Linked DNA regions of Homo sapiens: regions 2 and 3 are each linked to region 1. Evidence: fine-mapped expression QTL. A gene starts in region 1. Each other region holds a variant in brackets. All regions are shown on one strand. Distances are between the middles of the regions.

Evidence for each region. PIP is the estimated chance that this variant, and not a neighbour inherited with it, causes the effect.
Region 2: its variant is fine-mapped to the expression of RNF175 in whole blood (INTERVAL, PIP above 0.99).
Region 3: its variant is fine-mapped to the expression of RNF175 in whole blood (INTERVAL, PIP above 0.99).

What each region holds. Positions count from the first base shown.
Region 1 is chr4:153,756,596-153,764,782 of GRCh38, forward strand. RNF175 (ring finger protein 175) reads right to left here and starts at 3,429. Exons shown (of 9, transcript NM_173662.4): 1 at 3,202-3,429. The coding sequence starts at 3,267.
Region 2 is chr4:153,652,265-153,660,451 of GRCh38, forward strand. It overlaps the pseudogene LOC100419170 and the pseudogene WDR45P1. Among named protein-coding and RNA genes, the nearest start is that of TLR2, 28 kb to the right of the region's middle. The variant T/TAA (reference allele first, on the strand shown) is at 4,951.
Region 3 is chr4:153,817,452-153,825,638 of GRCh38, forward strand. No RefSeq gene overlaps it. Among named protein-coding and RNA genes, the nearest start is that of SFRP2, 32 kb to the left of the region's middle. RefSeq lists an enhancer at 5,440-5,609. The variant CT/C (reference allele first, on the strand shown) is at 4,026.

The DNA.
Region 1 (8,187 bases):
GCCATTCATTTTGTCATTCATTCAGCAAATATGGAGTGGTGCCTCCCATGTGCCAGCCACTGGGTTAAGAGCTGGCATTCAAGGGTTAGAAAGACAAACAAGGTGTCTGTTCTCATGAATAGGACCTTGTGTTCTAGAGGAAATGATGCACAATAAACAAGCAAACAAAACAACTGCCTAATGAAGTAAATTATATGAAGAAAATAAAATGTGTGATAAAGAATTACCAGCAGAGGGCAAGGGCTGTCACTCTTTAGATAGGGTGGCTAGGGGAAGATGAGATGGAGGCCAGCATGCAGGGTGTCCCCCTCCTCTGAGGCCCTTGCCTTCGCTCTCTTCCCTCTTCAAACAGTAAGAGTGTTCCCATTAAAGGTAGACTGATCCTATTGTCTTCCTGCCTGAAATCCAACATGGCTCACAAGGCCTTGTATCCCATTTCAGCCTCCCCTCTCTCCACTGCCCCTGCACACCCTCTGCTCCAGCCAAGCAGAGCTTTCCTGTCCCTGAATGCTCTCCCTCCACTCCCAGCCTCCATGCTGGGTTGCCTCATTTCTGCTCACCCTTGGATCCCACTTACTCCAGGACACCCTTTCGGTGAGGCCCCTACCAGGATATATACTGACCTTGAACATTGTTACCAGACTGCATTGTTGATGACTTATTTACTTACCTGAATCTGTAGGTGGCCAGCGCTGGCCTCATCCCCCCACTGAATCCTCATGTCTGGTGCATGGCACACTCAATGTGTTTGGAGACTGCCACCCCGATTGGCTTTCATTATCTCTCACCTGAACTGCTGCCTCCAAACTGATTTTGTCACTTTCAACTCTTCCCTCACAAAACCCACCTGTTAGAAAAATCTTTCTAAACCAAGTAGCAAAGCCAGAACAATGAACTCAGAAACTAGTGATGACCCTGGACCACATGTGAGTGCCAGGTAGGAATGTTAGGTTTAGAGGGCTGTATTCATTGGTAAGGAATTCATGTCACAAGGCAAGGCTGCATGCCTGTGGGTGGAGAGGAGGGGCTGTGTATGGCCTGCCCCCAGGCAGAGAGCAGTTTTGGGGAAGTGGTGGGTCCTCTCAGCTCTCAGGAGAAATCCGAGCCTGGAAAGCAAGCCTTAGACAAGCAGAAGAGGGAACTCCTAAACCCATGGTCTCTGCTCTCACACTCCAAATTTTAGGAGTTTCAAACATACCTAACCAGTTGCAGGCTCAAAAGACCCCAGGGGTTGTAGCTGGGGAGGTGGAGGATGGGGAATAGGGAGATGGTGTTTGTCCAGTAAGGTATGCTGGAGTTAGGGTCTTACATCATAAGATTGTACGTTACTGTTCATTTATTCATTCAATAAATATTTATTGAGGCCCTGCCGTTTGCTGAGACTGTTCTAGGTCCTGGAAATACAGGAGCGAGCAAGGCAGACCACATGGCTTTTCTGCTGGAGCTTTCATGCTGAAGGAGGTTCTTAGACAATCAAATACACACATAGACATACTTCAGGTAGTGATAAGGGTGATGAAGGAAAATAAAATAGGGTGAGGTTCAAACCAAAGGGAAGCTATCAGATAATAGGCTGGTCAGTAACTATCTCTGTTTTCACTTTCTTATCCCTAGCTCTAGTAAAGTCAAGAAACCAGCACTTCTTGAACTTTGATGTGCAAATGAATCACCCTGGGATCTGGTTAAAATGCGGATTTCAATTCAGTGGGTCTGGCGTGGGAACTGAGACTGCATTTTTAACAGGCTCCCAGGTAATGCCTTGGCTGCTGGTTCCTGGACCACACTGTCTTGCCATATGGGATTAAGGGAAAAGCTGTGAGTCCCTCCTAGGGCAGCCTCAACAGAGAGGCCATACCTCCTGAGGGCAGCAGACTAGGCAGTGATGCCAGCCTTAAGGAAGAGCAAAGATCAGCAGCAAATCCACCAGTACTAGATCCTCTGACACTCCTGGCATGCATTCATCAATTCAGAACCTCCCTTTCGATAATCTGGGTTTGAAACCAGCAAGAAAGTCATGGAGTTTCATTTTAAGTTTCCCCATTTTGTGGTACACAAGCCCCTCCACAGCCTAGCCCACCCTTATTTTTTGCTATAAGCATTCCTGACCCCTAGGTTTCTGGCAGTCAGAGTGGACAGTCCCCTCTCTCTGCCTTGTCCCATGGCCATCCATCCCAATATTAAAAAAAAAAAAATCTCCAAGCCATTTGGTACTGTTGTTCCCTCCATCTAGAATTCTCTGGCCCATGAGGTCAGATCCTGTCCATTCCCCAACACCCAGCTCGAATGCCACGCCCTCACGGGTTGGAGGAGAAGGGGGTTAGTCAGGAGCAAGCCCTTCTCAGAAATCCTACAGTTCTTTGCCTGAACCTATTTTGGGACATTAATCTCTTCCTACCCGCTCTGTGAGTGATTTTTGTTGTTGTTTAAGAGTTATCTTTGCCCTTAAGAGTTATTTTTGTCCTCGTTTTACGGATGGGATTTGGGTTCCTCCAGGTAAGACCTACCCTCCTCCACCCCCAAATCCTCCTGGTACCTGGATGTAGCCTAAGAAGAATTGTCCTATGAACGAAGAATAAATTAAGATTGGGTTTGCAATTGACGCCAGCAGAAGCAGAAATGGGCTAGGTTGAGCACCAGGCAAGACAAGCTGACGATCAGGGTACACATCTTGAATCAGAAACCCTGGGCACAGACCAGCAGTCTGCGTGGTAACAGGCCCTCCGAGTGATTCTGATGACACTCGAGTTTGAGAACCAGGGCGGTCTAGCCAAAAGCCTGCAGTACACCCCTTCCCCTCTCTCGCAGCTTACGACCTTGACCCTGGGCTCTGGGGGCTTCCGCCGAGGAGGGAGGAGGGCACAGGCGGTCACAAAGGAGGGCGGGAGTGGAAGGGGTGAGCCTGGAAGAGAAAGTGCGAGGATGCGAGAAGAGGGATGGAGCGAAGGAAGAGGATCAGAAGGAGGAAAGGAAGGTAGCGGGGAGGGCACAGAAGTGGGGAGGGAGGGAGTGGAGGAGGGACTGGCACCCCGCACGGTGGCATCTTCCAGAAGGTCATGCGTCCGTCCCCACGTCTTTCCAGGGCCGGTTCTCCCCGGTGGGGCCCGGGGTCTTGGAGACCAGTCTGTGCAGCCTGCCCGGCACCAGCGTGAGCCCCGGGACCCCGGCCTGGCGTCCCCCACGCCCGCGCCCCCGCGCCAGTACCTGCTCCTGCTGCGGGGGGGCCTCCAGCACCGGCGCTGCCTTCCGCGCCGCCGTCCCCGCGGCCATGCCTGAGCCACTGTGCCTTCTCCAGGGCACAGCGCCTGCCGGGGAGGGTCCCGCAGAGTCCGCAGAAGGAGGCGCCGCGGGGCCTCGGGAGCCGAGGGTGAGAGCCGGATCTGCGGCGGCGGCGGAGCGGCGGCCCTGCCCGGGTTGTGCGGGGCGGGAGATGGGAGCCTCCCGGCACGCCCCGCCTCCGCCCCCTGCACGCTGGCCAGCGTCCTCCCCAGCAGCGGCCTCGAGGTCCCGGTCGCCAGCACCCCGGTTCCTTCAGAACCTCAGGCCTCCCATTCAGCCAGCCATTGTCGCCGATAAAGCGTCTTGAGCCCTACCGGGTGCGTGTGGCGGGAACCCCGGTTTTGTTACCGGGCGGCAGGACTGGAGGAGGGGTCAGAGGTGGGTAGGGAGAGAGAGGGGAGTAGAGGAGTGAGAAATGGCGGTGGGGGGGCGAGGGGTGCTGGGGAGGAAGAGAAGAGAGAGAGAGAGTTTCCTCTCCCTCAGAGGTGTTTATTAGGAGGCAGGAGTTCGGGTGGCTGTGCAGATACAGACTTTCCTCAGTTATCTGTGCTTCCTCCAAAGATGATGAAGGAGAGAAACTCCAATCTAGGGAGAGCGCAGACCATCTTGGCCCCTATGCTGCTCCAGGCCATGCAGGGCCCCTGCGACGCAAGCATCTTGCCTTTGCCCCTCTACCTCCAGGGTCTCCCCTCCCGCCTTTACAACTTAGGCCTAAGCCTGGCTTCAAGGTTGAGAACAAGCTGGAACGTTTAGGCAAGCCTTTAGAAATACCTGGGTGTTGATTTGGGGAAACAGAAAAGAGGAGCACAGAATTAGATGATGTGTCCTACGAAATACAGCTTACCCCTTTCCAGTTTGTGATGGCTCGTATTTGTCAACACCTACAAAGGAGGTGAACAGACCAAGATGGACATTTCTCTGCCATTGTGGAACGTAGAGCCTAACAGGGGATAGAGAAAAATAAGCATCTAAGTACAATTTATCACGGATGGTGCCTTGGTTTTCCAGCCTTAACTGGGCATCAGAATCCTATGGAGGAATGCTGAGTTTGTTAAAACTCAGAGTGCTGGCCAAGCACAGTGGCTGATGCCTTTAATCCCAGCACTTTGGGAGGACAGGGCGGGCGGATTGCTTGAACCTAGGAGTTTGAGACCAGCCTAGGCAACATGGTGAAGCCCCATCTCTATAAAATATACAAAAGTGAGCTGGGCGTGGTACACCTGTAGCCCCAGCTACTCAGGAGGTTGAGGCTGGAGGATCGCCGGAGCCCGGGAGGTTCAGGCTGCAGTAAGCCGTGATGGAACCACTGCACTTCTGCCTGGACAACAGAGCGAGACTCTATCAAAAAACAAAACAAAAATCTTCAGATTGCTGGAGTTGAGCCCTAGAGTTTTTAATATAGTAGGTCTAGGGTGGAGCCTGAGCATTTGTCTTTTGAACAAGTTTTCAGGTGCCGCTGGGGCTGTTACCTACATCTGAAGACTACCTTGTAGCATGATCAGAGTGTGTTGGAAAGAGTGTCTGAGATGGAGAGAACAGTGGATGCAAGGGCCGGAATGCTGGAGAAGGCATAATGAATTGGAGAAATAAAAATCATGGTTAACATTGATAGAATGCTTACCGTGTGCCAGGTGCCGTCCTGAGCACTCTACCTGTGTTAGCTCATTCAGTCTTCCTGACAATCCTGTGAGGTGGGCATTGTGACCGTCCGTGTTTTACACGGGAGAACACTGAAGCACAGAGAGGTCCAGAAGTTTGTTCAAGTTTTGAAGCTAATAGGTGGGGCAGTGGGAATTTGAACCCAGACAAAACTGACTTCATGGTCTGGGTTCTTAATCTCTCAAGGAAGTAGCTGCGAAGGTCAGCAAGGGCCAGATCCACATAAATCATATTAAACAGTTTGGACTGTAGCCTCAGGAGAATGAGAAGCCATTACCGAGTTTTAAGCAAGAAAATGACATTACCAGACTTGCCTTTTGGCTTCAAGAGTGGGGAAGAGGGCTATGACTATGACTCAAGACAGAGAGACCAGCCAGAAAGCTATTGCTGTAGTTTCAGCTCTAAGGATGACAGTGGCCTTGGTGGTGAGAGTGTGTGCGGGGACAGAGTGGAGGGGAGATGGAGAGATGTGTTTGGGGATGGGAGATCTAGGTAATAGAATCTACTGTACTTGACTCATCTCCAAGGATGGTGCCCAGGCATGTGGCTTGGGCAGTCTAGCATTTGGGCAGACAGTGCTGCCATTGCTGAGAATGGGAACATTGAAAGAGCAGCAGATTTGGGGACACAAAAATAGTGGGTTCATTTGGACATGTTACTTCTCTACCTATCTTGTGGCCTGCCTTCATGTGGCAAGAGCCATTTTTTCTCTCCAGCCCAGGATATCCTCACATTCATCTAGATTCTCCCAAGGCAGCAAAATAATAAAATGAAAATAGTCCATATGGAGATAGATGTTCCCTTTCTATAAAATTCTGACCTGTTATTGTTATATAAGTCTCAGGTCCCAGATTTGAAACTCTCTCTCCTGATTGATTGGCACCAAAAAGACCCACATACTTCACTGGAGACCCATGTATGCACAAAGGTATCATCTTCCTTCTGGCTTCAGCTCAGCAATCATATCAGAATAAAACTCAAAAAGTGCATTTCTTCCCCATCAGTAACGATGGCTTTGCTCTAATCTATCCTCCTCTTATACCTGGTTTCTTCTATGATCAAATTGCAGATATTCAGAATGAATATTTAATTTCCCAGTCAGTTAGGCAATGCTCTCTGGAGTAGTTCACTGAAACAAGGTTAATTAATTTGAAATTTTGTTTTCCAAATCAAATGGTTGGCGGCTGACTCTGTCTTCTGTCCTGGAATAGATGAACTGTATTCTGCTGCTTAACACTAATCTCTTCAGCATTTTATCTGTAGTCTGTGCATCCTTCTTCATGTCCCGCAATGTAGAGTCCTGAGGTGGTTGTAATGATGTAATGGAAGAAATTAGCTAATGTGGTAAATGTGTTTGAGAAACAAGGTGGGGTCAAGAATCACTAGTCAGTTGATTGTCATATTTGGTGCAGGAATCAACAGACTCAAGGAACAGAATGGGCACATACATTTATGGAAAACTAGTTTCATGAGAGGAGTAGCAAATCAGCAGAAAAAAATAGATTATTTAGTAACTGGTTTATCCATAAGAAAAAAAAATTATACCATACCAGCACAAAACTGGTGGTTAGAAAGCAATAGTTTATCTAAAAGAATGTTTTTATGGTCTCAAGATAAGAAAAGATATATTAAACAAGACTCACAAAGAACAAATGGCAAAGAAAAAAGTTTGCCTGTATTAAAATGAAAAATTTCTGTACAACAGAAACTTGCGGTTAAAAAAGAGGCAAGCCATGAACCAGAATATATTTGTATATAACTCATTGACAAAGGACTAGTACTCAGAATAAGTAGAACTGCTAGAGATTAATTTTTAAAAAGCGTAGATCAATAGAAATGGGCAAGGGATATAAATCAATTTGTATAAATAAAATTATGAGACTTTAAAAATAATTTTAAGGGAATTAATGATTGAATTTATTAATATGTGGATTAATTCAGAGTACACACTTCACAGGAATGCTTGTATATGTTCAGTTACTTGTTCCGCAGTGGCTCCCTCCAGCCTTCCTACCCTAGACCACTCAGCAATTTTCCCCATTTCTCCTCCACTTTCTTGGGGCCACCAAACTTCCTTGGGCCAGTGGTGCCACCTAATGGTTAGATCTTGCAGAATGCCATTGTATTGCTTTACAAATGATCTTTTTCAAGTAACTTCCATTTTCAATTTACTCCTTTCCTCATTTCTCATCTTTTCATATTTCATATACCATATACAGATATCTCATGTCTTTTTCATATTCCCAGATAAAATGTGTATTTGATCCCTAGCATTAAGCTAGAATAAATGATTCAGAATGTCTCCAGCCAGGTGCAGTGCTGGTCACATGTGGAATAGGATGGCAGAGGGAGACTCCATGCAACTGGCAGAACTTCTCCTCTGTGAAGGGGATAGCAAGAGCAGGTTCATCTACATGAGGGCAGGGCAGGGAGGTAAAAATCCATCCAGGCTGTGTGAATATCCAAGAGCTTGTCTGATCTCAGAAATCAGTATGAAAAAGACACCAAACTTTCTGGACTCCAGTGGTTCTTGGGGCCAGGGTTGGCTTTGTTATAAATAGGAATAATCACCCAAGAGGGGAGGAACGCTGAAGCCAGGTCCCATCTTGGCTGATGAAATAGCTGCATAGGAATGACTAGGCTAACTTCTTTTCAGTCGTCCTAACCCTCCATTCCACCCCCTCCCCAAACTCCTTTCTGGGTGCTAGGTTGGTCTTCACATGCAGACACTAGTTCCTTAGAATTGACAGAAATCCTGCAAGTTGGTCTGATTCCCAACTGTCGGGGTTCCTGACTTAACAGTCCCAGTTTTCCTTGGTCCCTCTGCCTAACTGGATAGACATTTTCATCTTCCTTTAATTAAATCTGTTTTTGCCTAAGCACTAGTACTTTTTTATCTCATCCTTTAATTATTAGTATTGTAACACTATTGATTTCCACTCTGTTGGGCTAAAATGTATGGTGTTTAGCTATATTATGGTTACATGGCTTTTTGTGAGCTGGCTTGTAGCCCTAATTGCCATTTATAAAATTGCTTCTATGGGAAAGTGCATTCTGCCTTTCAAACCACAGCCTTCCAAACACACGAACACAGTTCATTTGTGAGCTGGGAACCATCAGTATTAATGTCTCTTGGCCCATGGCAGCCCCACAACCAAATGACATGTGGTTTAAGGTTCGTGTAACAGCCAGTTCATTTAAATAATGTTAGCTAGGACTCAGCTTTCAGGTTCTCGGATTTCTGGTTAATTT
Region 2 (8,187 bases), 100 kb before region 1:
CTGTTCTGCTTCGCTCAAGTCATTCCTGTGGGACAAGCCGACCTAACATACAGGTGTAGTCAGGGGCTAGGAGAGACCTAGGCAGGCCCTTGTCCATTCTCAGTCACTGAAGTGAGACCTAGGGACTCAGGAAGGACTCAGAGTTCCCTTAGTCATCATTCCCTCTGGGCATCCTGCTTTTGGCATAATTACTGATACGAGCACCTCGTGTCCCCTCCTGAATTATACCTACCCCCCCGCCTCCCCGCCCCCTGCAATTGCTTAGCACAGTATCTGGCCCATGGAAGTGACTTCATGGAAATTCAGCGGATGAATGACTGGACAATGAACAACGCACAGCAATGTGTGGTGTGACAGAAAAGGCTGCACCAGCAAAAATTGGAAGCTGATCTTTGGGTATTTCCTTGCCTTGGTCACTTTGCAATTTCCTGGGTGCTTGAAACAGGAAGTCAGTGACTCTAAGCCCCTGTGGGATCTGGCACCTCACATCAAGGTATCTGGAAAGTCCTTATTCTTCACTTCTCCATGCGATCCTACCCTACAGACCAGCCCTCCTTTTGGAATCTCTCCTGCTACACATTCTGTGACCCTGGGACTCTCTCTTATTTTATTTATTTATTTTTATATGCCCGTGTTTCCAAAGGAATAATAGGGCAGTTAAATATAGCTATGACTGTGCCTTTCCAGAGCCCAGAAAAGTCTGGAAAACTGGGAATATCCAAAGCTCAGGATGATATTGCGCACACAAAAAGTACTAGGCAGAGTAGTGTTTAGATAGAAACAGAGTAATGTTTAGATAGAAAGCAGACTCAGTCATATAAAATATATGCATATACAGCATGATCTGCATTTCTGTGATGCTTCTGAAGTACAGAAGCATTCAGCACTTCAGTAACTCTTATTGCAAGTTACCTCTTCAATCATTTTTCTTCAATCATTAAAATGCTTTAAAAAATTTTTTAGCTTATTGAGGTATGACTGACAAAAATTTTAATATATTTAAAGTGTACAACTTGTTTTGATATATGTATACATTGTGAAATGATTACCACAATCAAGCTAATAAACATGTCCATTATCTCACGTTACATTGTGTGAGAACACTTAAGATCTACTCTTAGCAAATACCAAGTATTTCGAGTATATCAAGTATGCAATATATTATTACTATACACTCACCATGCTGTACATTAGAGCTTCAGAACTTATTTATCTTATAACTGAAAGTTTGTACCCTTTGACCAATGTCCCCATTTCCACCATTCCTAGTGACCACTGTTCTACTCTGTTTTTATGAGTCTGGCTTTTTTTAGATTCCACATGTAAGTGAGATTATACAGTATTTGTCTTTCTGTGACTGGCTTATTTTACTTAGCATAATGTCCTGCTGGTTCATCCATGTTGTTGCAAATGGCAAGATTTCCTTATTTTTTTAAGGCTGAATACTATTTCATTGTGTAGTATACACCACATTTCTTTATCCATTCATTCATTGATGGACACTTACGTTGATTCCAAATTTTGGCTATTGTGAATAATGCTGCAATAAACATAGGAGTGTAGACAGCTCTTTGACATATTGATTTCATTTTCCCTGGGTATATGCCTAGAAGAGGGATTGCTGGATCATATGGTGGTTCTGGTTTTAATATTTTGAGGAAACTCCATATTGTTTTCTATGATGGCTATACCAATTTACATTCCCGCCAATAATGTATAACAGTTCCCTTTCTCCACATCCTTGCCAACACTTATCTTTTGGCTTTTTGGTACTAGCCATCCTAACAGGTATGAGGTGATGTTTTATTGTGGTTTTGATTTGCATTTCCCTGATGATTAGTGATGTAGAGCACATTTTTATATGCCTGTTGGCCATTTTTATGTCTTCTTTGGGAAAATATCTATTCAGATTATTTTCCCACTTTAAATCCAGTTATTTGTTTTTTTGCTATTGAATTGAATTTTTTATGTATTTTGGATAGTAACCCTTTATTATATATAAGGTTTACAAATTTTCTCCCATTCTATAGGTTCTTTTTTTCTTTATTTTACTATAAAGTTTAAAATCTTGTTTTAATTTTTGTGGGTACATAGTAGGTGTATATATTTATGAGGTGTGTGAGATGTTTTGATACAGGCAAATTGTGTCACAGAAAATCCCCTCAAGCATTTATCTTTTGTCTTATGATACAATTAAACTCTTAGTTATTTTAAAATGTACAATTAAATTATCGACTATAGTCACCCTGCTGTACTATCAAATAGTCGGTCTTATTCATTCTTTCTAACTATTTTTTGGGTACCCATTAACCATACCCATCCCCCCGCCTCCCCCTTACCCACCTCTATAGGTTCTTTTCATTTTGTTAATTTTTTTCCTTTGCTGTGCAGAATAAAATGCTTTTTCAAAGCAAGTTAAAGCTGCTCTCTACTTAGATTAAGAAATCAACTTAAAGTATTATATATATATATATATATATATATATTAAAAAAAAAAAGAAAACATCTGAAGTGGCTCCAGCAGAAGGAAAGGCAAGATGGGAATCAAAGTTTAATCTACATTCTTTCTGCTTCTCCTTTTCTACCAACACTGTGTTCAACTGCATAACAATAGTACCAATGAGCACGAGAAAGATAGTTTTTAGTTTAAAGACTATTTCAGTTTTAGTCAGACTACTTCAGACCTCAGACTCCAGACTTCAGACTCCAGACTTTAGACAACAGACTCCACATGCCACACAACAGACTTTCAGACTCCAGCTTCAGACTCCAGACTCCAGATCGCACACTTCAGACAACAGACTCTAGACAACACACTCCAGTCTCCACATTCCACACGACAGACTACAGACTCCACACTCCAGACAACAGACTCCACACTCCAGACAAGAGACTCCACAATCCAGACAAGAGACTCCACACTCCAGACAACAGGAGACTTTTAGACTCCAGATCAGACTTCGAACTTCAGATTCACTCCAGACTTCAGACTCCAGACCAGACTTCAGACTCCAGACCCAGATTTCAGATTTTAGACTTCAGACTCCAGACCAGATTTCATATTTCAGACTCCAGACCAGACTTCTGACTTCAGACTTCAGACTCCTGACCCTGGATTTCAGACTCCAGGCTTCAGAGTTTGGACTTTGGACTACTTCAGCTTTAGTCAGACAGACAACTTCAGTCACACCACTTTTCACCTCTGCCATCTAATCTCGTCTTTTGAACAACCCCCTAAAAAGGTAACATTCCCAAGAAACCCAGACCCAGAAACACTGAATGACATACTCAAGACTACCCAACTAGTAAGGGGGAGGCCACAGTTTCCCTTACCCTGGCAACATGCACATGGCAGGCCCTTCACTTAGCTGGTAGAAGGAACACAGGCTTGGGAAGGAGATGTCTGATGTTCACTCCCTGACGACACTCTTACTTGCTTCAATGATCTCTCTGAGCCTTGGGTGGCCCATCTGCTAAACAAGGATGAGTTATTTCCTGGGGATGCTAAGAGACTTCTGCCTCATGCCTGCAGTGCTGCTCATGTTGCCCCCTTGGAATTACTTGTTCAACTTCTTTCTTCCCCACTAGACTGTGAGCTTCTTCAGGTCAAAGACCAGGACTTTCTTGCCATTAACCCCAGCAACTAGCATCATGCCTGACCAAAGGGCATGCTGATGACAATAAACATTGATTGTCCGAAATCACATGCCTGGTCCCCAGTAGGCGCTTGCTGGTTACTGCTTTCTTCCCATCCTCCCTCTGCCACCCCTTCCTCTCTGAGTCTGGAGGGGATGGCCATGTACTAGCCAGGGGCAGTGTCCACAGGAAATTCAGGTCCTTTGCAGCAGTCAGTTTCATTTCCTATGATTAAAATTTCTGTGAAACATATTATGCAAGAGCAGAATTTTAATGTAGTTATTCCCTGGACGGTCTGGGCAAGACAGACCTACCCTGTACCAGTTCCTGGCACAGCTGGTGTTGGCCCAGTTACGCAAGTTTCTGAGGTTTAAAACAGAACAACAACCTTCCAGTGTTTCTTTCAATGCCAAAGCAAACTTTCTCAGCAGAGCGGTCCCTCATTCTTGGAAAAGAGAGGAATGTCCTTTTCTTTTCCCTGTCTCCTCTTCTCTGATAGAAAAGTGATAATTTATTATTGAGATTGCAGATTGGGCCTCGACCCCTCCTTTGACAAAGAGGCAAAACACTCCTAGAAATAAAGTTTTCATTAATGCATTCCTCTCTCCCCTTTCTCTGTCCCCTCCTCCCCTTTCCTGTTCTCTAGGTCTCTGCTTCTAAATGTATCCCCAACTTCTTTCCAAATACTTCCTCCTGCGCTGTCCCACCTGAACCTCTGCTACGTAATGCCCTCTGCTCCCTTTTTGCCATCGATAGTCTCATTTCCTGAGAGACACTGAGCTCATCTAGTTGGTTAGAGGAAAACATTATGATTGATCTAATTCATATTAAAGTGTGAATGACTGACAGCCCAATATATTTACATTACTTCATATAATTGCCTTTTTACCAAAGGCGCTTATTAATCCAAGTAAACACTTTCCACATAGAATTCCCCTAAAGAGTTTTGGGCTAGTTATTCCTCTGCGTGTCCCTCAGGGAATGACTATTTCTTCATAACTTCTGTCTTTCTTTTCAAGAGTAAAATGAAGGGAAGGTCAGTGATCTCATATTGGGTCTACACTGGGGATTATGCCCTCAGTGAGCTAGAGATGGGACAAGTTTAGGGACTGATTTTCTTAGAGGCAATCATTACCTGGTATTTTCCTGTCAATTGAATTATGATCTTAGAAACAAATGCTTTTAAACAAAAGGTCAGCTAGGTATGGTGGCTCATGCCTGTAATCCCAGCACTTTGGGAGGCCAAGGCAGGCAGATCACTTAAGGTCAGGAGTTCAAGACCAGCTGGCCAACATGGTGAAACTCCGTCTTTAC[T/TAA]AAAAAAAAAAAAAAAAAAAAAAGTACAAAAATTAGCCTGGCATGGTTGTGATGGTTGTGCACACCTGTAATCTCAGCTACTTGGGAGGGAGGAGACTCGCCTGAACCTGGGAGGTGGAGGTTGCAGTGAGCCAAGATTGCACCACTGCACTCCAGCCTGGGTGAAAGAGCAAGACTCTGTCTCAAAAAAAAAAAAAAAAGAAAGAAAATTAAAAAAATAAAAGGTGGAGGAAAATTTTCATATTGTTTTTCTCTTATAATTTTTATTCTTTGCCAATACAGCTTTGAAACTCTGTAGTTTCCTTAGTAACTCTGCAGTGTCTAAAAGTTCCTCAGTCAACTGACGTATAACTCCTCTTTCATGTCATTCACCCCATAATTATGTACTTTTGTCAACCTATCATTATAATTAGTATTCATATGCCTAATGTTTTTGCATATCTGTTGTATAGACAGGCAGCTTTGTTTCTCCACTCGATTCTTCTTTTTTGATTTTTTTTAAACAAAAGTTTACTCTTACATGTACAGCAGGCTGTAAGACAACAGTTCATTCTAACTATAGGTGGCAAAAGATGTTATGGCAGGAAATGCAGAGGTTTAAATAGCAATGGAATCAAGGGTCATCATTGCCTCAGTCACAAGGAACAGCTTTTTTTTTTCCTCAGGTTTCTTATTTATTTATTTTCAACTCTTATTATAGATTCAGGGGGCACATGAGCAGGTTTGTTACCTGGATATATTGTGTGGTGTTGAGGTTTGTGTTACAAATAATCTCATCACTCAGGTACTGAACATACTACTCAATATTTCGTTTTTCAACCCTTAACCTCCTTCCTCCCTGCTCTAATATCCCCAGTTTCTATCATTGCCATCTTTATGGCCATGAGCACAAAGTTTAGCTCCCACTTATAAGTGAGAACACATGGTATTTGGTTTTCAGTCTATGCACTAATTTGCTTACGATAATACTTTTTGCCAGATTTCTTAATTCCACTTGTGGCCAGGAGTCCCTTCCCTGTGTCCTTTGCTTTTAGCCCCTCAAGTTTCTTCTGCTCCTCTTTTTGCTTCTGCTTGGAATCCTGTCTTCCTCCTCCATCTCTTTGGCTTGTTTCTTGGTCTCTTCTTGCCACCTTGCTGCTCTTTCCCCAGACCCTATCACCAGAATTCATTTTTTATAAAACAAATATACTTATTCATTTGGCTCTACTTACCAAGGAACTCATATCTAGCACTTACAAGCATTAGGTACGGGCAGGCGGCACCGACAGCTGGGGCCTGGGTCGGGGACACGCGGAGGTCAGGCTGGTGAAGGCGGCAGGAAGCTGGAGCACGATCCCAGGGGGAACAATCCTGGACCTTGACTCAACAGCCACTTTGAGGAGTGACCAGCCTGCGTTTCAACCAAGACCAAAACTGCTTTTGCTGCGCCATGGAGACAGGTGTGCGCATCTACAACGTGGAGCCCTTGATGGAGAAGGGGCATCTGGACCACAAGCAGGTGGCAGCATAGGCTTGGTGGAGATGCTGCACCGCTGCAACCTTCTGGCCTTGGTGGGCGGTGGTAGTAGCCCCAAGTTCTCAGAGATCTCAGTGCTGATCTGGGACGATGCCCGGGAGGGCAAGGACTCCAAGGAGAGGCTGGTGCTGGAGTTCATCTTCACCAAGCCAGTGCTTTCTCTGTGCATGCTCCATGGCAAGATCGTGACCGTGCTGAAGAACCGCATCTATGTGTACTCCTTCCCAGACAATCCTCGAAAGCTGTTTGAGTTTGATACCCGGGTCAACCCCAACAGGCTCTGTGACCTCTGCCCCAGCCTGGACAAGCAACTGTTAGTGTTCCCGGGACACAAGTGTGGGAGTCTGCAACTTGTGGACCTGGCGAGCACAAAGCCTGGCACCATGTCTGCTCCATTCACCATCAATGCACATCAGAGTGACATAACCTGTGTGTCTCTAAACCAGCCAGGCACTGTAGTGGCCTCAGCCTCCCAGAATGGTACCCTTATTCGCCTCTTTGACACACAATTCAAGGAGAAACTGGTGGAGCTGCACCGAGGCACTGACCCTGCCACCCTCTACTGCATTAACTTCAGCCACGACTCCTCCTTCCTCTGCGCTTCCAGCGATAAGGGCACCATCCATATCTTTGCTCTCAAGGATACCCACCTTAACCGCTGCTCCGCGCTGGCTCCGTGGACAAGGTGGGGCCTATGATTGGGCAGTACGTGGACTCTCAGTGGAGCCTGGCGAGGTTCACTGTGCCTGCTGAGTCAGCTTGCATCTGCTCCTTCGGTCGCAATACTTCCAAGAAATTCAACTCTGTCATTGCCATCTGTGTAGATGGGACCTTCCACAAATATGTCTTCACTCCTGATGGAAGCTGCAACAGAGAGGCTTTCGATGTGTACTTTGACATCTGTGATGATGATGACTTTTAAGGACCCTGGGAGCTGTGCTAGAGACCTGCAGTGGCAGACTGCAGAGCTGAGCCTTGGCAGTGGGGCATGCTTGGAAGCCACTAGCCAGCAAGCATTAATGCGGCTGGTGCCCACTTTCCACTCAGCAGAGCTATGTCTAAATAAAGAGCTCACTTCCCCCCAGCACTTCTTGATGACTGTGTGCCCCAAGGGCCAGGCCAGAGACCCAGGAAGGCAGAGACCCCTTGGGATCCCTAACCTGGAGGAAATTGCCAGGGACCCAGAGGAAGTGCCCTAATCCAACCTGGGGATTTTTTAAAAGCTTCCTAGGAAGAGATGATCTCCGATGTGATGAATATGAATAAAAGGCCCTTAATGGCAAAACAAACAAACAAACAAACAAACAAACAAACATCAGGTACTGCTGGTAATTTACATGTGCCATCTCACCAAATTTTCAACCCTATGAAGTCCATTTTACAGAGATAATAACTTGCTCAAAATCATGCAGTTAGCAAGATGGCTCAGAATCTCTATTCATAACCTCTATACATACTGCCTTTGTTATGTTTCATGTTATCAGAAATGTTTAAAAATCACTTTGGAATGTTATTTATCACAACAAACAAAAGTTACATCATCCTAAGCTTCTAAAAGCCAATCTGAACAGTTTGACCAAATGAAAACTTAAGGTAGACTAAGACCCCATTGTACCCAACCTTGCATACTCAAGGTTGATGAGGTACTATTCCTGCTATTCTCTAGTTACTTGGTGAGGCCATCACTAATCTCAACAGATTCTGGTGGTTTGAAGGCAGTG
Region 3 (8,187 bases), 61 kb after region 1:
TTTGTAGTATGAGATGTCTAAAGGCATGTTTTCTGCTACAAAGCAATCCATAAAAAATTTCAACAAGGAATTCCATCTACCTGTTATAGACACAGGATGTCCCTCTTCCACTGATGTGGCTTTGAAAGAAATAAACAGCCTGCTGTCATTTTGTGTTACCATCCTCAGCAGGCAGCAAGAATGCAGGAAAAAAACCTGCTTACAGCCAAGGGTCAGGATTAGGATGTAAACTCCTGGGAGTGTGTGTGTGTTTTATCCTGGTATCTCTCATGGTGACTAATTCCTTGCTTGTGCATTTCAAGAGCTCAAAATATTTTTGCTCTTTGCAATGGTCTGAATGTATTCTCCCAAAATTCATATGTTGAGACTTAATTGCCAATGTGGTAGTAATGCAATAAATCAGATTATATCTTTGTAAGCTTTAAGAGATAATTAAGTTATGAGGGTAGAGCCTTCATGGAAGGAATTAAGGCTCTTACAAATGGGCTTAAGGGAGTGGGTTCATTACCTTCTATCCCTTCCTCCACGTGAGGACATGGCATTTACTCCCTCTGGAGCATGCAGCAACAACATACCATCTTGGAAGCAGACCACAGTGCAATCAAATTGGAACACAAGATTAAGAAACTCACTCAAAACCACACACCTACATGGAAATTGAACAACCTGCTCCTGAACGACTTCTGGGTAAATAATGAAATTAAGGTAGAAATCAAGAAGTTCTTTGAAACCAGTGAGGACAAAGAGACAATGTACCAGAATCTTTGGGATGCAGTTAAAGCAGTGTTGAGGGAAATTTATAGCACCGAGTACCCACATCAAAAAGTTAGAAAGATCTCAAATCAACACCATAACATCACAACTAAAAGAACTAGAGAACCAAGAGCAAACAAACCCCAAAGCTAGCAGAAGACAAAAAAAAAAACATCAAGATCAGAGCAGAACTGAAGGAGATAGAGATATGAAAAACCCTTAAAAAATCAATGAATCCAGGAGCTTTTTTTGAAAAAATTAATAAAATAGACCACTAGCTAGACTAATAGAGAAGAAAAGAGAGAAGAACCAGATAGACAAAATAAAAAATGGTTAAGGGTATATCACCACTTAGCCCACAGAAATACAAACAGCCATCAGAGAATACTATAAACATCTTTATGCAAATAAACTAGAAAATATAGAAGAAATGGACAAATTCCTGGGCACATACACCCTCCCAAGACTAAATCAGGAAGAAGCTGAATCCCTGAATAGATCAATAACAAGTTCTGAAATTGAGGCAGTAATAAATAGTCTACCAACCAAAAAAAGCCTGGGGCCAGACAGATTTACAGCTGAATTCTACCAGAGGTACAAAGAGGAGCTGGTACCATTTCTTCTGAAACTGTTCCAAACAATTGAAAAGGAGGGATTTCTCCATAACTCATTTTATGAGGCCAGCATCATCCTGATACCAAAAGCTGGCAGAGATACAACAAAAAAAGAAAACTTGTAGGTCAATATCCTTAATAAACATCAATGCAAAAATTCTCAATAAAATACTGGCAAACCGAATCCAGCAGAACATCAAAAAGCTTATCCACCACGATCAAGTTGGCTTCATCAATGGGATGCAAGGCTGGTTCAACATACACAAAACAATACATGCAATTCATCACATAAATAGAACTAAAGACAAAAACCACATGATTATCTCAATAGATTCAGAAAAGGCCTTCGATAAAATTCACCATCCCTTCATATTAAAAACTCTCAATAAACTAGGTATTGAAAGAACATACCTCAAAATAATAGGCATTTATGACAAGCCCACAGCCAATATCATACAGAATGGGCAAAAGCTGGAAATATTCCCCTTGAAAACCAGCACAAAACAAGGATGCCCTCTCTCATCACTCCTATTCAACATAGTATTGGAAGTTCTGGCCAGGACAGTCAGGCAAGAGAAAGAAATAAAAGCTATTCAAATAGGAAGAGGGGAAGTCAACCTGCCTCTGTTTGCAGATGGCATGATCCTATATCAAGAAAACCCCATCATCTCAGGCCAAAGCCTTCTTAAGCTGATAAGCAAATTCAGGAAAGTCTGAGGATACAAAATCAATGTTCAAAAATCACAAGCATTCCTATATACCAGCAACAGACAAGCAGAGAGCCAAATCATGAATGAACTCCCATTCACAATTGCTACAGAGAGAATAAAATACCTAGGAATACAGCTATCAAGGGAAGTAAATGACCTTTTCAAGGAGAACCACAAGCCACTGCTTAAGGAAATCTGAGAGGAAACAAAAAAACGGAAAAATATTCCATGCTCCTGGATAGGAAGAATCAAAATGGCCATACTGCCCAAAGTAATTTATAGATTCAATGCTATTCCCATTAAACTACCATTGACATTTTTCACAGAATTAGAAAAAACTACTTTAAAATTAACATGGAACCAAAAAAGAGCCCATATAGCCAAGACAATCTTAAGCAAAAAGAACAAAGCTGGAGGCACCACACTACCTGACTTCAAACTATACTCCAAGGCTACAGTAACCAAAACAGCATGGTACTGGTACAAAAACAGACACAAAGACCAATAGAACAGAATAGAGAACTCAGAAATAAGACCACACTTGTACAACAATCTGATCTTCAAAAACCTGACAAAAACAAGCAATGGGGAAAGGATTCCCTATTTAATAAATGGTGTTGGGAGAACTGGCTAGCCATATGCAGAAAATTGAAACCGGACTCTTTCCTTACACCTTATATAAAAATTAACTCAAGATGGATTAAAGACTTAAATGTAAAACCTGAAACCACAGAAACCCTAGAAGAAAATCTAGGCAACACCATTCAGGACATAGGCATGGGCAAAGATTTCATGACGAAAACACCAAAAGCAAAAATTGAGAAATGGGACCTAATTAAACTAAAGAGCTTCTGCACAGCAAAATAAACTATCATCAGAGTGAACAGACCATCTGATAATAAAATATCAAAGAAAAACCCTATTTTTTTTTCCTCCAAGACTTGAGTAAATAGGAGAAAATTTTTGCAATCTATCCATCTGACAAAGGTCTAATATCCAGAATCTACAAGGAACTTAAACAAATTTACACACAAAAAAACCAAACAACTCCAGTAAAAAGTGGGCAAAAGACATGAATAGACACTTTTTGAAAGAAGACATTTACGTGGCCAAAAAACATATGAAAAAAAGCTCAACATCACGGATAATTAGAGAAATGCAAATCACAACAACAAGACACCATCTCATGCCAGTTAAAAAGTCAAGAAACAACAGATGTTGGCAAGGCTGTGGAGAAATAGGAAAACTTTTACACTGTTGGTGGGAATGTAAATTAGTTCAATCATTGTGGAAGACAGTGTGACGATTCCTCAAAGACCAAGAACCAGAAATACCATTTGACCCAGCAATCCCATTACTATGTACCCAAAAGAATATAAATCATTCTATTACAGAGATACATGCATGCATATGTTCATTGCAGCAATATTCGCAATAGCAAGACATGAAATCAACCCAAATGCCCATCAATGATAGACTGGATAAAGAAAATGTGGTACATATACACCACAGAATACTATGCAGCCATAAAAACGAATGAGATCAAGTTTTTTGCAGGGACATGGTTGGAGCTGGAAGCCTTTATCTTCAGCAAACTAATGCAGGAACAGAAAACCAAACGCCACATGTTCTCACTTGTAAGTGGGAGCTGAACAATGAGAACACATAGGGAGGGGAACAACACACAGTGGGGCCTGTTGTGGGGTTGGGGGAGGGAGAGCATCAGGAAAAATAGCTAATGCATGCTGGCCTTAATAGTTAGCTGATGGGTTGATAGGTGCAGTAAACCACCATGGCACATGTTTACCTGTGCAACAAACCTGCACATCCTGCACAAGTACCCTGGAACTAAAAAAAAAAAAAAAAAAAAATTGATGAATCCCAGTGTTGGTTAACATTAGTATTGGCCCACACTGAAATTCATATTGACCTCAGAGTGGAAGGCTAT[CT/C]TTTTTTTTTTTTTTTTTTTGAGACGGAGTCTTGCTTTTTTTGTCGTTGCCCAGGCTGGAGTGCAGTGGCACCATCTCGGCTCACTGCAACCTCTGCCTCCTGCGTTCAAGTGATTCTCCTGCCTCAGCCTCCCAAGTAGCTGGGATTACAGGCATGAGCTACCACACCCAGCTAATTTTTGTAGTTTTAGTAGAGACGGGGTTTCGCCATGTTGGCCACACTGGTCTTGAACTCCTGACCTCAGGTGATCCGCCCACCTCAGCCTCCCAAAGTGCTGGGATTACAGGGGTGAGCCGCCACGCCTGGCGGAAGTTTATCTTTTGTGGTTGCTTTGACTTTGTGGGAGGATGGATATTGGAACCTCCCATGGGGAATACTGCTTGCTTGACTTATTTTTCTTCTCCATGATGTTAGGAGAAAAATCTTTCTGACCAGAAGGCTAACTCCTCAGCCAAAGTGGCAGTCCGTCTGCCGTATCACTGGCTTTACAGGGGAAAGAATCCCAAGAGGTCAGTTGATCCAGGATCCAGTCCTAGGCTGGGAAGACATTTCTGCTGTTTTACAGGTGAGGTACCTGAGGCCCCAAGAAGGCCAAGCGACTTAGCCAAATCACTGAGAATGATGCTGATGGTGGAGCGGAGATGCAGTGGGTGTAGAGGAAGACAGGGGTTGTAGTAGTGAGGGAATGAGAGTAGATGCTAGAATTCCTGGTTCTTCTCTGCATTGCTAATCTATTGGAGATTGGCATCATGCCTTCATCTTTGAATCCCTGGCACCTTCACAGTGTGTGGCAATTAATGTGCCCAATTAATGTTGTTGAATAAATGAACCATAATGGCCCCCTCTGGTCAAAATCCTCTATGATAAATTCTCGTAACATTACGTATCGTTCTTTCACAGTACTTGTTACAGTAACAACTTTCCATTTTTTTGGAGTGTGATTATTAAATCAATGTATTTCCCCTTCACTAGACAGACCATAATAAGCTCTATAAAGCTTTTAGTAATCACTGAATCATGCAGTGCTTGGCACTTAATAGGTGCTTGGGACATATTTGTAGAATGAATAAATGATCTTGGGCAAGAATGGCCTTGGGAGGTTCAGTTTGGGCTTAATAATGGCAGCAGCAGCAAAAACTAGTATTAGTTTAAGGTGTTTTCATAGGTATTATTTTCATTTAATAATTTAAAAACTCCTACTAAAAAGGTATTATTTCTATCATATAGATGAAAAAAACTGAGGAAGATCAGAGAGGTTAAACATCTTAAAGTCTGATACTCTATGATCACTGTATTACAAATGTGGGCCCTGGGTTATTTGTTGTCCATACAGCCAGACTTGCAGAGATCAGTAAATGTTTTATGGCACATGAAGTGAATGAGAGAATATGTGATTCTTTTGTATTTTTTGTGTATTGGTTTAGAGCAAAGGCATTTTTACATATGAGAAGAGCTCACTGGAATTGATAATAAGGGCTCACACCCCCTCACTGGCCCTGTAGTAACACAAACACTATCTTCATTTGTATTCCAGGGGCCAGCCAGAAACGGTTGATGTAAGATGTCTTATAGGTCCAGCTGATGCTAACAACCAATGAGAGAAAAATTTTCATGCTTTGAAGACTAAAATACTTTCTCTCTATGAATTTATAATATAAATGATTGACAACCTGAATAAGATAAGGGAGGCCTAGGTCCATGGTTCTTAAGCTTTTGTGGCACATAGGATCATTTGATGGGACACAGATTAATACAGACCCCTTAATCTGGTCATTTCTTACTACTAGAAACATGGGGATAACAATGTCACTCCCACTAATGTGGAAATAGTGGAAAGGATGGATTTGCATGTATGAGTGCCTTATGGGTAAATTATAAATATATTCCTGAAATTGACTAGAGACGTGAGCACCTTGTGAACTTCAATGCTATAGGAGACCAGCAGAAGCTCCTTTGTGGAACATTGGAATTCCCAGGCCGCAGCCAAATGCCACTGGCTAATCACCTTAGAGTTTTAATTCAGGAATGGTGGGTTGAATCTTGAAAATACATGAATGTAGAAAAGGTGAAAAGGGGATGTCAAATGTATACTAATGACCTTTAGAAGATGCATTAGAAATGGGATTGGATTCTTATGAAGTGGACAATTATTACTACCTGGTAATATGCTTTATTTCACCATGCCAGTTCAACGAAGGCATTCAACAGTTACTTGTTGAATGAAATAGGACCTCCATTCTATCATATGAATGCCTAGCTAGAGAAAAGCCTTCCCAGACCAAGAAACTTACCTCTATTTCATGTAATATTTGCTGAGGTGAATGGAAATCTATCCTGTGGTGACACCAAAAGAGTCTATATTCTGTCATTTCATGTATTACATAAAAAGGATGGCATCAGAGACATTTCAGATGACATGTGGAATTCCTGTAAAACATTCTTGATGAGGCTGACAAAGACAATTCCTTAATGATGTTTGTTTCATTTTTGATATAAATGGAAAGACTGAAGACAAATGTAAACGAAGGAAAGTGTTTCTAATAATAACAATAATATGAATGTATGAGGTATCAATCTTTGCGTTACTGATCATTGATTTATTTCTTGGTGAGATCTTTATCACAGGATGACCTTGTTGCCAAAAATTACCAAGTATTGGGAAAATGTATAGCTACTGATAGGAGCATGTGCAGATTTGCTTTTTGTCAGTGTGTGTTTATGTTACATGTAGATATTGTCACTTTATTTAGCAAGGCGTTCTTTCTTCTTGAGTCAAGAATATAATGTAAACTCAAGTGAATTTCTCTTTAGTGAGAAGAGCATTTTATTTTGTCCTTTCTGGCCCTTATATTCATACTTTTGACCACCCACAGGCGAATCCAGGAGAACCAGAGATAACTTCCATAGACTGGAAAACCAGGATGAAATTGTGTGTATTTCAGTTTAAAAGATTCCTTTCAGGGGAATTATCACTGTGATGTTGGAAGATATTCTTTCATTCACAAGGCATTTGCAAGATCTATTATGTATGAAATTACTCACATGTAAATATTTTGTAGATGTAAAGCAAATTTGCTCCCTGCAAAATGGACCCAGTGGTGGGAACCAGTTTGAGGAGATGAGGCTGTATTTCCCTTCTCTAAGCATCACCAACAGAGCTGCTTAATCTGAGTCTGGAAGAGATCCAGTGGGATTTAGTTTTATGAGTTTTAATGTAAAGGTGTTGTATTTCATGAGATGAAATCATAACACAGTGGATTGCAAGAATTTTGAGAGATTATTTTTTCAGAGTCTTGGCAAGCACCATCCTCTAGAGAATTTTGTGTCTAAAAAAGAAATATAGATATTCTTTAATAGGATTCACATGATAGCTAATCATTAATTCCTTCTAGATGGTCAGGGTTTGACTGGAGAGGCTGATTTGGAACATCTGGAGCAGGTCTGACCTCTCTAGTTGGCCTTTATTGAATTTGTGACTTCCACAGCATCCTAAAACTTCAAAGTACATGGGCAATGCATTTTTTTTGGGTCCTCTACTCCTAAGCCATGATTACAGTTCTTTTTATTTATATATAGATTATACTTCACCTTTAGTCTTCATGCACAGTTTGATTCTCTATGAATTTTGACAATCCAAATGAATATTTGGCCAAGACAAGAAAGGTTATCAAGCTGTATCTCAGGTTTCTTTCCTCTCCCGTTCTTGTTATGTTTTCAGCTGAGAAGAAGTTCTCTGTCTCTGTTTTAGAGAAAGCTGAGCCATTTCCTTGACTTAAGTTTGACCTTTTTTTTGCTTCATTCTGGAACACGTATAACTGTTCTTAGGCTAAACATCTCTCTACTTTTGTGACTGTCTCATCTCCAATTTCCCTGTAATGCAACATGTTGGAATAGGTTTCTCATGAATGGCAGGGGAGAAACAAGACGCTCTGGGAGAAATCTGGCACTTCTTCTGATTTTGATGTGTATGGAAGGTAGTTTGTGTTCTATGTAGCTGAGAGCCTTCTTGAAACATGGCTCAGGCAAGAAAGTTTCGGAAGTGCAATTAGTTCAGCATGGGAGTCTAGCAAAACGAATGTATGCCCCAATGTATGTAGCACTTTTCCCAGGGAGATTTGTTCCTACCTTATTTTAGAAATAATAGATGAACTCTTAAGACT